Regions from separate parts of the Homo sapiens genome. Here region 1 is linked to region 2. Evidence: fine-mapped expression QTL. A gene starts in region 2. The other region holds a variant in brackets. All regions are shown on one strand. Distances are from middle to middle.

What was found. PIP is the estimated chance that this variant, and not a neighbour inherited with it, causes the effect. A credible set is the group of variants that fine-mapping cannot tell apart.
Region 1: its variant is the best candidate, but not a certain one, in a credible set for the expression of ODF1 in prefrontal cortex (BrainSeq, PIP 0.88).

Annotation. Positions count from the first base shown.
Region 1 is chr8:102,523,641-102,528,862 of GRCh38, forward strand. LINC03047 (long intergenic non-protein coding RNA 3047) reads left to right here and starts at 5,181. Exons shown (of 2, transcript XR_001745731.2): 1 at 5,181-5,215. RefSeq lists an enhancer at 4,958-5,177. The variant GCC/G (reference allele first, on the strand shown) is at 2,528.
Region 2 is chr8:102,548,428-102,553,922 of GRCh38, forward strand. It overlaps ODF1 (outer dense fiber of sperm tails 1), which reads left to right and starts at 3,162. Exons shown (of 2, transcript NM_024410.4): 1 at 3,162-3,620. The coding sequence starts at 3,301. It overlaps LOC124901998 (a long non-coding RNA gene), which reads left to right. Exons shown (of 3, transcript XR_007061039.1): 2 at 1,271-1,382; 3 at 2,080-2,169. It overlaps LOC105375684 (a long non-coding RNA gene), which reads right to left and starts at 2,201. Exons shown (of 2, transcript XR_928478.3): 1 at 2,116-2,201.

The DNA of each region.
Region 1 (5,222 bases), 25 kb before region 2:
ATTAAACTCTTTCTCTATTGCAATTCCCCTGTCTTGATCCATTGGCTATCTGGGCAGCAGGCAAAATGAACCAATCATGCAGTTACATCCTCTCTCCTCACTCCCCTTTTTATCTTCTTCTCTTCTTTTGACCTCAAATTCAAGTTCTTCCCATTGGATTGCAACACCTTGGGACAATTTAGCACTGCTCAGCCCCTGCTCCTAAACCCAGCTCCAGCCTGCCTCTGCACCACTCATAGTGGCTTGGCTAAAGAGCCTGATTCTGTTCCTAGACAAAGGCCATCTCTCCCCCATGGGTAGCGTGGTAGTTCTTAAATATGTCTACAGATTCTTTGATACTTCTTTCAAAGGGTGACACCTATGTCTCCTCCCCTTTAGTATGGGCTATGCTTACTGACTCAATTCCAGTCAATAAAGGGCCACAGAAGTGACATGTGACTTTCCAGATGAGGGCAACAAAGACACTGTGACTTCCTCCTTAGATCACCCACTCTGGGGCAAGTCAGCTGCCCTCACAAGGACTCAGAGAAGCTTCTCTCTCTCTTCCCATCCTCCATTACTAATTCTTCCCAATAAACACCACCACACATAACTCTGGGTCAATGTGCAAAGTGTGGAAGGGGTAGAGGGGGAGGTGCTGGGTCACAGCAGAGAAGTAGAGAGATGAGACTAAGGCAATTGAGTGCAGCAGAGCAGTGCATGGGCTCCAAGCCACAGCAACCTGTGTTGGAGCCCCAGTTCTGGCTCAGATAGGCTTGGTATAAGGCTTGGCCCAATGTAAGTATTCTTGTGATGATAGCAATTATGGTGATTATTATTGGTTGAGCACACACTGTGTGTCAAGCTCTATGCTAGCTACATTACACACATTACCATATCATTTTCTTCCTTTCTTTTTCTTTTTTTCTTTTTGAGAAGTAGTCTCACTCTGTTGCCAAGGCTGGAGTGCAGTGGTGCAGTCTTGGCTCACTGCAACCTCTGCCTCCCAGGTTCAAGCTATTCTCCTGCCTCGGCCTCCTGAGTAGCTGGGATTACATTCGCACACCACCACGCCCAGCTAATTTTTGTACTTTAGAGACCGGGTTTCACCATGTTGGCCAGGCTGGTCTCAAACTCCTGACCTCAGGTGATCCGCCTGCCTTGGCCTCCCAAAGTATTGGGATGACAGGCGTGATCCACCACATCGGCCTGCTTTCTTTCTTTCTTTTAGATGGAGTCTCGCTCTGTCGCCCAGGTTGGAGTGCAGTGGCGCGATCTCGGCTCAATGCAAGCTCCGCCTCCCGGGTTCATGCCATTCTCCTGCCTCAGTCTCCTGAGTAGCTGGGACTACAGGTGCCCACCACCACACCCGGCTAATTTTTTTGTATATTTAGTAGAGACGGGGTTTCACCGTTTTAGCCAGGATGGTCTCGATCTCCTGACCTCGTGATCCACCCGCCTCGGCCTCCCAAAGAGCTGGGATTACAGGCATGAGCCACCGCACCCAGCGTCTGTTTTTTTTTTTTAGAGACAGGGTCTCACTCTATCACTTAGGCTGGAGTGCAGTGGTACAATCATAGCTCACTGCAGCCTTGATCTCTCAGGCTCAAGTGATCCTCCTGACAGCCTCCCAAGTAGCTGGGACTATGGGCATGCACTACCATGCACAGCTAATTAAAAAAAAAACTTTTGTAGAGCTGGGGTCTCACTATGTTACCCAGGCTGGTCTCAAACTCCTGCCCTCAAGCGGTCCTTCTACCTTGGCCTCCCAAAGCACTGGGATTACAGGTATTGGCCACCATGCCCAGCCTCGTGTTTCATGTTAATACTCACAGAGCAACTCAACAAGATTGATATGTTGTAGTGATAGAATAGTGTTTCCCCAAAATATATGTCCAAATTGTGACTCTAGATACCTGTGAATGTGACCTTATTTGAAAATAGGGTCTTTGCAGATAGAACAGAGTTATTGATTTGGGGATGAAATTATCGTGGATTTACAGTAAATCTAATGACTGGTGTCCTTACAAGACAGAGGAAAAAAAGATTTGAAACAGGAGAGACACAGGAAAGAAGGCCATGTGAGGATAGAAGCAGAAGGTGAAATCTTTGTTGCCACAAGTCAGAGAAGGCCAGAGCTGGAAGGATCCTCCCCTTCCAGGATTCTCTTTGGAGGGAGAATCAAAGGCCAAGATGTCAGCTTGGCCTTGCTGACATCTCAATTCTGTGCTTCTGGCCTCTAAAACTATAAAAGAATACATTTCTATTGTTTTAAGCCACCCAGTTTGAGGTCATTTGTTACAGCATCCCAGGAAACAAATACATACACATATATATATATTTTTTTAGATGGAGTCTCACTCTATCGCCCAGACTCGAGTGCACTGGTGCAATCTCAGCTCACCTCCTGGGTTCAAGTGATTCTCCTGCTGCAGCCTGGGACTACAGGCGTGCGCTACCATACCTGGCTAATTTTTGTATTTTTAGTAGAGATAGGGTTTCGCCATGTCGGTCAGGTTGGTCTCGAACTCCTGAACTCAAGTGATCG[GCC/G]CCCCCCCCTTGGCCTCCCCAGGTGTTGGGATTACAGATGTGAGCCACTGCATCTGGCCTGAATACACATGTTTTTGTCCCCACTTTACAGATGAGGAAATGAAGGCTCAGAAAGACAAACAAATTTGCTGAGTCTGTTTTTATGCAAAGAGTCAATTTATGCTAGATACACATAAAGCTACAGAGTGCTCATAAGATAAATGATCAGGAACCCAAAACAGGAAAATTAGGACAAATGTGTAGCTCTAGGTCCCTACTGAAAAAAGGAAAATAGGTTCACATCATTTCAATGGGCAAATTCACACAAATACCAGAACTCATTTAATTAGGTCAGGAGAAACCCTCTTGGAAGGAGAAAACTAGCAAAGTAGAAGGTTGGGTAACATGTAAAACAACTCAGCAAAACTGTCTATGGAGAAGACCAGTCCATACCAGACAGAGCCAGCCCCAAAGGCGGATGACCTAGACTCTTGGGAGACTTTGAGCAGATTAAATTAATAGAGCAATTAGGGGCAGGAAGCAGACTAAGCGTCTTAAAATCTGGGAATCCAAGAGGAAATTTTCAGAACAATTTAGCTTGTAGGAAGGAATCGAGTCATGCACTTTTAATTTCTCTCTGTTTGGTTTCTTTTCAATATGCTGAAATGGCAAGTCTGAAGAGCAATAAATAAACACAGGTTTCTTCTGAGACACAAACAGCAGGGAATCATTAATTTTTAAGGTCCACCCATTTCCCAAGGAGCCTTGCCTGGTGTTTGAGCTTTAATCAACTCACGGGAACAAGTTTCTCCTAACCTACACCATTATCATCCCAGGAGCCTTCTCTTGTCTTTTGGGGGGAAAGAAAATTGGCATTTTCCATAGTTGCAAAAATAACAAATGCTCAATATACAAACTTTGGAAAATTTGAAAGGGCACAAAGTAAAGAAAAGGAAAAAAGTAAGCACCATAATCCCATCTCCTACTTTTGTTTTCTTTGAGACAGGGTCTCATTCTGTCACACAGGCTGAAGTGCAACAGTGCAATCACAGCTCACTGCAGACTGGACCTCCCAGGCTCAAACGATCCTCCCATCTCAGCCTCCTGAGTAGCTGGGACTACAGGTGCACACCACCATGCGCGGCTAACTTTTTTTGTATTTTTTGTAGAGACGGGGTTTCACCATGTTGCCCAGGCTGGTGTTGAACTCCTGGACTCAAGTGATCCACCCCCCTCAGCCTCCCAAAGTGCTGGGATTACAGGTGTGAGAGCCACCTCGCCCAGCCCCATCTCCTACATTTTGAAATATATTCTTCTGCTAGTTTAGATATAAGGATAAACATGTAATTCAAAACCAAATTGCCTTTAGCTGCTCCTGCATGTTTATGGGAGGGATGGTGAAACCGCCTTTGTAAAATCATGACTGAGACAGTGAAAGAGATCTAACTTAACTGACTCCATCTTGCCTCTAACCCCCAAGCTGTCCTTGTTCATTCCTGGGCATAGGCTGAACTAACTTTGGGAGAGACTTAGTTTTTCTAATTTAAACAAAGACGGTAACAGCCCTTTCCCAAAGCAGACCGCCTTCTTGCCTGGGGAGTAGATTGCCTTTGTAGGACTAACATTACCCACAAGATTAAAAATTATGGTTTAGGAGTCATGCAGCTGGAAGTCTACAAGATTCTGACCCTCCTTAAACTGGTCCTAAGATCAGTGCTGGAGATATTTTGCAGACCCTGCACTTGATAGATCAGCTGGCACCACCCAGATCAATAAACTGGTTCATCGGATCTTGTGCCCCTGGACCCCCCGGAACTGATTCAGCACAAGACAACAGTTTCGACTTCCTATGATTTCATCCCTGACCAATCAGCACTCCTGGCTCACTGGCTTCCCCCCACTCACCAAGTTATCCTTAAAAACTCGACTCCCCGAATGCTTGGCGAGACTGATTTGAGTAATAAAAAAAACTCCGGTCTCCTGCACAGCCGGCTCTGCGTAAATTACTCTTTCTCTATTGCAATTCCCCTGTCTTGATGAATCGGCTCAGTCTAGGCAGCAGGCAAGGTGAACCCCTTGGGCAGTTACGGTGGCTGAGGACATAATTCGTATTTGTGGAGAAAAACATAACATCGAATATTATTTACTATGTGCCAAACACTAAGCACTTCATACATATTAACTCTAAGAAACTTTTGTCTACTGCCTGCCAAGTTCAAAGATATTCTTCTATATTTAACTCATTTAATTCTCAGCAACCCTACTAAATATTAGTCCCACCCCATTCTGTAGATAAATAAACTAAGGCAGGGGAAGAACTGTGCCCCAAACCGCACAGCTGGTAAGTGGCGGAACCAGGACTTCCTCCAGAATCTGCTCCAGAAGCCTGCGCTGTGCTGTGCACTCCGTGCGCTGTGTGCTCCGTGCGCTGTGTGGTCCGTGCTCGCTGTGTGCTGTGCACGCGGTGCGCTCTGTGCTGTGTTGCATGCTCTGTGCTGTGTGCGCTGTGCTGTGTGCGCTGTGCTGTGTGCTCTGTGCTGTGCTCCGTGCGCTGTGTGCTGCGCGTGTGTGCTCTGTGCTGTGCTCCGTGCGCTGTGTGCTTTGTTGTGCGCTGTGTTCTACGTGCTCTGTGCTGTGCGCTGTGCTGTGTGCTGAGCTGTGCTGGCATCGTTCTCACTCCTCCTGGTGGCTGTGGGAGGATGGACTGGTAAGGC
Region 2 (5,495 bases):
CCTTCTGATATGAATAGATCACATTTCCATCTCATCATTAAAGAAGACACTACCTTTATTTAGTCACTTAAAATGATAAGAATATACTTCATGATGAAGAGTAAAATCACTAGGAAGGGACAGGAGTGGTGACTCATGCCTGTAATCCCAGCACTTTGGGAGGCCAAGGTGAGCAGATGGCTTGAGCCCAGGAGTTTGAGACCAGGCTGGGCAACATGGTGAGACCCCATTTCTACAAAAAATACAAAAGTTAGGCAGGCATGGTAGTGCATGGCTATAGCCCCAGCTACTGGGGAGGCTGAGGTGGGAGGCTCACCTGAGCTCAGGAGGTCAAGGCTGCAGAGAGCACATGCCACTGTGCTCCAGCCTGGGTGACAGAGTAAGACCCTGTCTCAAAATAAAAAAAGAAAAATCACTAGGAAGGTGGGATAATGGGAGAATCCTAGTTGAAATATAGCTATACCCATCTTAATAATGTACCATGTATACACAGATGTGTGTATTTAGGCACCTGAACTTGTGTATATAATAATATTAAACTGAGAGCTTGCCTGCTTCAATCTTTGCTGACATTTGCTAAGGGATAGAATTCAAGGTGATATAAGAATTCTCTGTCACCTGGAGCTAGAGAAATCTGTACAACTCCTGCAATTAACTCTCAGGAAAGAGTAGGCCATATTTCTATTAATAGGGTCCACCCCTCAGAATCAAATCACAGTGGAATCACTTTTAAAGAGGTCAGAATTTGTCCATAGAGGAGAATCATTCAGCTTTGCTTTTTGACTCATTCCACGTGACTCAAGGGGCCAGCCTCTCATTCTAATGCCTCTAGGGACACTTGTTTGCTAAGACACATTATCTGCACAGAAAAGGGCCTCCTAAGTCAAGGCTGGGGAACATCGAGCCATTGGGAATGCCATGCTTGGTCTAGTGACTCCCAAGGGACTCCAGCTGAGGGGGCTGTCGCCCTCTGTTACTCCTTCTATGAGCCTTTCATGGACTCCTTCACTCTCCTCATTTCTACTTATTTTTCCCTGGGAGTCGGCTTCAGCTCTCTTTTTAAATTCTGAATTATCTTGCCTGTTTCCAGGGTTCCAACTACCTATGGAATTGTGGCTTCCTAATTTATATCTCTAGCCCAGGCTTTCCTCAAATTCCAGACCCTCTTATCCACAGAATACTCCAGATTTCTACCTTAAAGTTGTCACCAGCACCACCTGTTCACCAAATCCCCAAACTTACTCTTCTCCCTGTGTTATTTTTATCTCAGTGGCACCAAGAGTCTGCCAAGCTTGAAAGCTGGAAGTCACCACTGATTCCTCCCTCACTCCATCCTCACTCTGTTCACTAAATCCTGTTGAATTCACCCAGATGGTCATTCAGTGAGTACATTTCAAGCACCTGCTATGTGCCAGGCATTGTGTTAGGTATCTACTGCGAAGCAAAAATAGACAAGGTCCTTGCCCTCGTGGCTTACAGTCCAGCTGGGGAAACAATATCATGAAGGAAATGTATCCTAAGTTAAGAGAGTGTTTAGTCTGGGAGACAGAGAAGGCTTCCCCAAGAAAGGGGGAGATCTAAAGGGTGCCTTAAGAATTAAATGGATGAAAGTCATAGGTGGGGAGTTCAATTTCTAAGCAGGCAGAACGTCCTGTGTATGAGCTCTGAATGAGGTGGAAGGAATGAGGAATGTCCTTCAAGGGACTAAGGAACGGCCTCTGGAAAGTGAGTGGTCTTCCAGGAAGGCCATCGTGGCTGAGGGGTAATGAATTGCAATAATACTAGGATGGGAGAGGAGAGTGGGGAAGTGGGAGAGGCCCCATTGCTCAGCACCTGGTAAAGATTTTGGTCCTTTTTTTGAGAGGACAGAGAAGACTTTTAAGGTGAGTGGGATGATGGGTGGGGAAGGTTGAGGAATGACAGATTTCTATATGAAAGTCGCTGTGGCTACAATGTGGAAAATGGATTAGATGGGGCCTGGGCAGAGGTGGGGGAAGGCTTTCCCATTGGCTTCCTCCTTGCCATCCCCATAGCCATGATCCCCAGTCCAGATTTTTGTTGTCTCTTCTTGTCTTGCAGCAGAAAACCCCACTACTATTGTCCCTAGCAACTTACCTTCAGTGTGGCTGTCTCACTTCTGACAAAAGAAAAGAAAATCAACAATCCTTCGTTGGGCTCAAAATAAAGTTCAGAGTCCTTAGTCTGGCTACAGGTCCCTTCAAACCTGGCCCTTGTCTCCCTCACCAGTGTCACATCCAACCACTTGTCATCAATACCTGAGCTCTAGTTCATACAAGGGAGACTCGAGAGCTGGACCGCAGTTTGAGGTGAAAGGACCAGAGGAGTAGAGGCACCGAGAGCCAAATCTGAGGCCGAATCAGAGGTCTAGGATGTTAACTGAACAGAAAGTAAAGGAAACTGGCCGAAGCGGGGGTTTCAGGCAGTTGGCTTCCAGCATCTTCAGGCGGTTGGCTACAAGAACATCAAAGACCAACATTTGGGAAGCACTCAGGGACAAGACATCCGGAGGCTTGGATGCAAGACCAAAGGTGTAGTTGATGGGAGGTAGTTCCCCAGGACAGGCCCCCGAGGACTGACAGATGGGAGCTTAAGGACAGGACCCCCAACCAGTAGAGAAATGAGGTTCCCGAACAGCCATGACCACAGCTGGCGCAGAATGGGCAGGACTCAGAGACTTGTAACTCAGAAGGTCAAGGACAATGGCTGACTTGAGGATGACTTGGTAGGAGGAGAATGATGAGAACATTCTTTATATTCTACCTGTCTGGAGACAGAATGAATTCTAGAACAAAAGGAGCAAGGCCAAGCTTCCAATCAAGGCTAGAGCTAGAAGGTCATGGAGAAAGGCGTGGGCAGCTCCTGCCTTCGCCTGCACCAAGTTCAACAAACACACAGTCATAGCCATGGCTGGTCCCCAGAGCACACACAAGGCAAGGATGTTAGTGGCCAGCCCCATGCACCCCGATGAGCTATGCTCGCTTGGGAGACCCATCCTCCTTGAAGGTGAGTGAAATCTCAACACGAGTATGGTTCTGAGAGTAGCTCTGTAACTCTGAGGATGGTCTCTGGAGACCATGACTGTGTACAGTTCACATGGTAACCAGAAGACTATGACATACTTCAGAAGGTGGTGAGGTCATAGAACACAAGCTTTAAAGTAAGTGAATCATGTGTGCCTCATTTATTTTTAAAAGCAACTTCTGAGAAGGGCTTAGAACAAATTTTTTCCCGGAGTGCCATTTCCCAAAGGTACTCACAGAACAATCAGGTGTGACCATAATGGCTGCACTGAGTTGTCTCTTGGACAGTGTCAGAAGGGACATAAAGAAGGTGGACAGAGAACTAAGGCAACTGAGATGCATCGACGAATTTAGCACACGGTGCCTGTGCGACTTGTATATGCACCCCTATTGCTGCTGTGACTTGCACCCATATCCGTACTGCTTGTGCTATTCCAAGCGATCACGCTCTTGCGGCCTGTGTGATCTCTACCCATGTTGCCTGTGTGATTATAAGCTTTACTGTCTGCGACCATCTCTCAGAAGTTTGGAGAGGAAAGCCATCAGAGCCATAGAAGATGAGAAGCGAGAGCTTGCCAAGTAAAATAACTTATTTTTAAATTTTTATAGTCGGTATATTAGCCTTATAAGTTGGAATAAGGAAAAATATGTGACAATCAATAGTTGAACAAAGATTAAAAGGGTTCAGGATAATGACCCTGGTGACTTAGGAAAGATTTAAGGAAAGAAGAGTAAATGAGTCCATGATGGGAATTGTAGGGTTCTCAAAAGACAATGTAATGATGTCGATTGGCAAGGTCGTCGGTGGTTTATAGCAAGAATGCCAGTATGATAAATAATGCGGCTTTAATGAAGGGAAGAAACAGGGGGTGTCATTAAAAAGCCATTGGAAGCAGCAAACTAAACATTTTTCCTGGTTATGAGTAAAGTGATTTGAGTATATTTGGACTTACAGAAATGACTACAGGAGAAGTAATAATAATAGATCAAATCCTTAATGTGTGCCAGAGGCTTTACAAGCAGGAGAGCAAATTGAACAGTAGAGGCATTGCCTTGGTTTTGTGGGAATATCATTCTCCTATCCCCCCACTCCAGGCAAAGACTTACCTTGTATCTGGAATTAGGTCTATCATGTTGGCCTCCCCTCTAACTCTAGCAAAGGTCTTGCAAATAAACTATGGCACTGAGTTGTAGCTTTCAGGATAGACTTGAAAGGCTTTTTAATTGAATTGGGTAATTAAAAAGAGTCAGTTTTTTAAAAAAATTTTTGTTTTAGATTATATTTTCTTTTTGCCTGGAGAAAACTTTCCTTTTCTAACTTTTTACATATGCCATTTAGTCTGTTACTGTTGATGAAAAAGATGGTTGAAAGTGCTGTCCCTGGTTAAATAAATAATACATTCATGCACTGGAATAATAAGTAAATATAGAAAGGATTGATGAAGCATCTTACATATTGATGTATTAAGTCAAACAAGCAAAGTGCAGAAAAACTGATAGACAGATGACAGATAGATAGATAGATAGATAGATAGATAGATAGATAGATGATAGATAGATAGAGTCTCTTGACAACAGTGACAGTGATGTTTCTTTGGAAAAAGCAATAGGAGGCCGGGTGCATTGGCTCATGCCAGTAATCCCAGCACTTTGGGAGGCGGAGGCGGGCAGATCACCTGAGCTCAAGAGTTCGAGACCAGCCTGGCTAACATGGTGAAACCCCATCTCTACTAAATACAAAAAAAAAAAAAAAAAAAAATTAGCCAAGCGTAGTGGCACGTGCCTGTAATCCCAGCTACTCGTGAGACTGAGGCAGGAGAATCACTTGAACCCAGGAGGCAGAGGTTGCAGTGAGCCAAGATTGCACCACTACACTCCAGACCGGGTGACAAAGTGAGACTGTCTCAAAAAAAAAAAAAAAAAAAGGATAATTATTGTCTAGGTCACCAGCCACCAATGGTCAGGAATGAACCTCCCTCATAGCCTGGGAGCTTTCACCTGTAAATTCATCTATACTCTTTGAACCAATGTTTGTTTTTATTTCTTAGGGCATCAAGTCACATAAATTGCTCACACTGTGAGGCAGGGACTCTTTTTAAAATATTTGGTCCAAGTTAAGGTTTCCTTGTGAGCAGATCAGTATCCACTCTCCTCCTACTTTTGGATACTTGAATACCCTTGTCCAGGTCTTTCCAGCCTCTGTCTTCCTGGCTTCTCTCCTATCCCCAGACTCTACCAATTAAAATCCCTCTCTGTCCTGTGCTGTCTACTCTCTTGATGCCTCTTTCAGAAGCCTTGTTTCTTGGCATGCAGTAGAAACAGCTTCAAGCTTAATTCTCGGCAGTGTAGTTTAGGCAAGAGGTAATGTTTTCTCTGGTTTGTGATGCTCTTCCTGACAGCGTCTGGGTCTTTGCCTATTTTTTCTCTGCCTGCAGGCAATATGTGAAGCTGGTG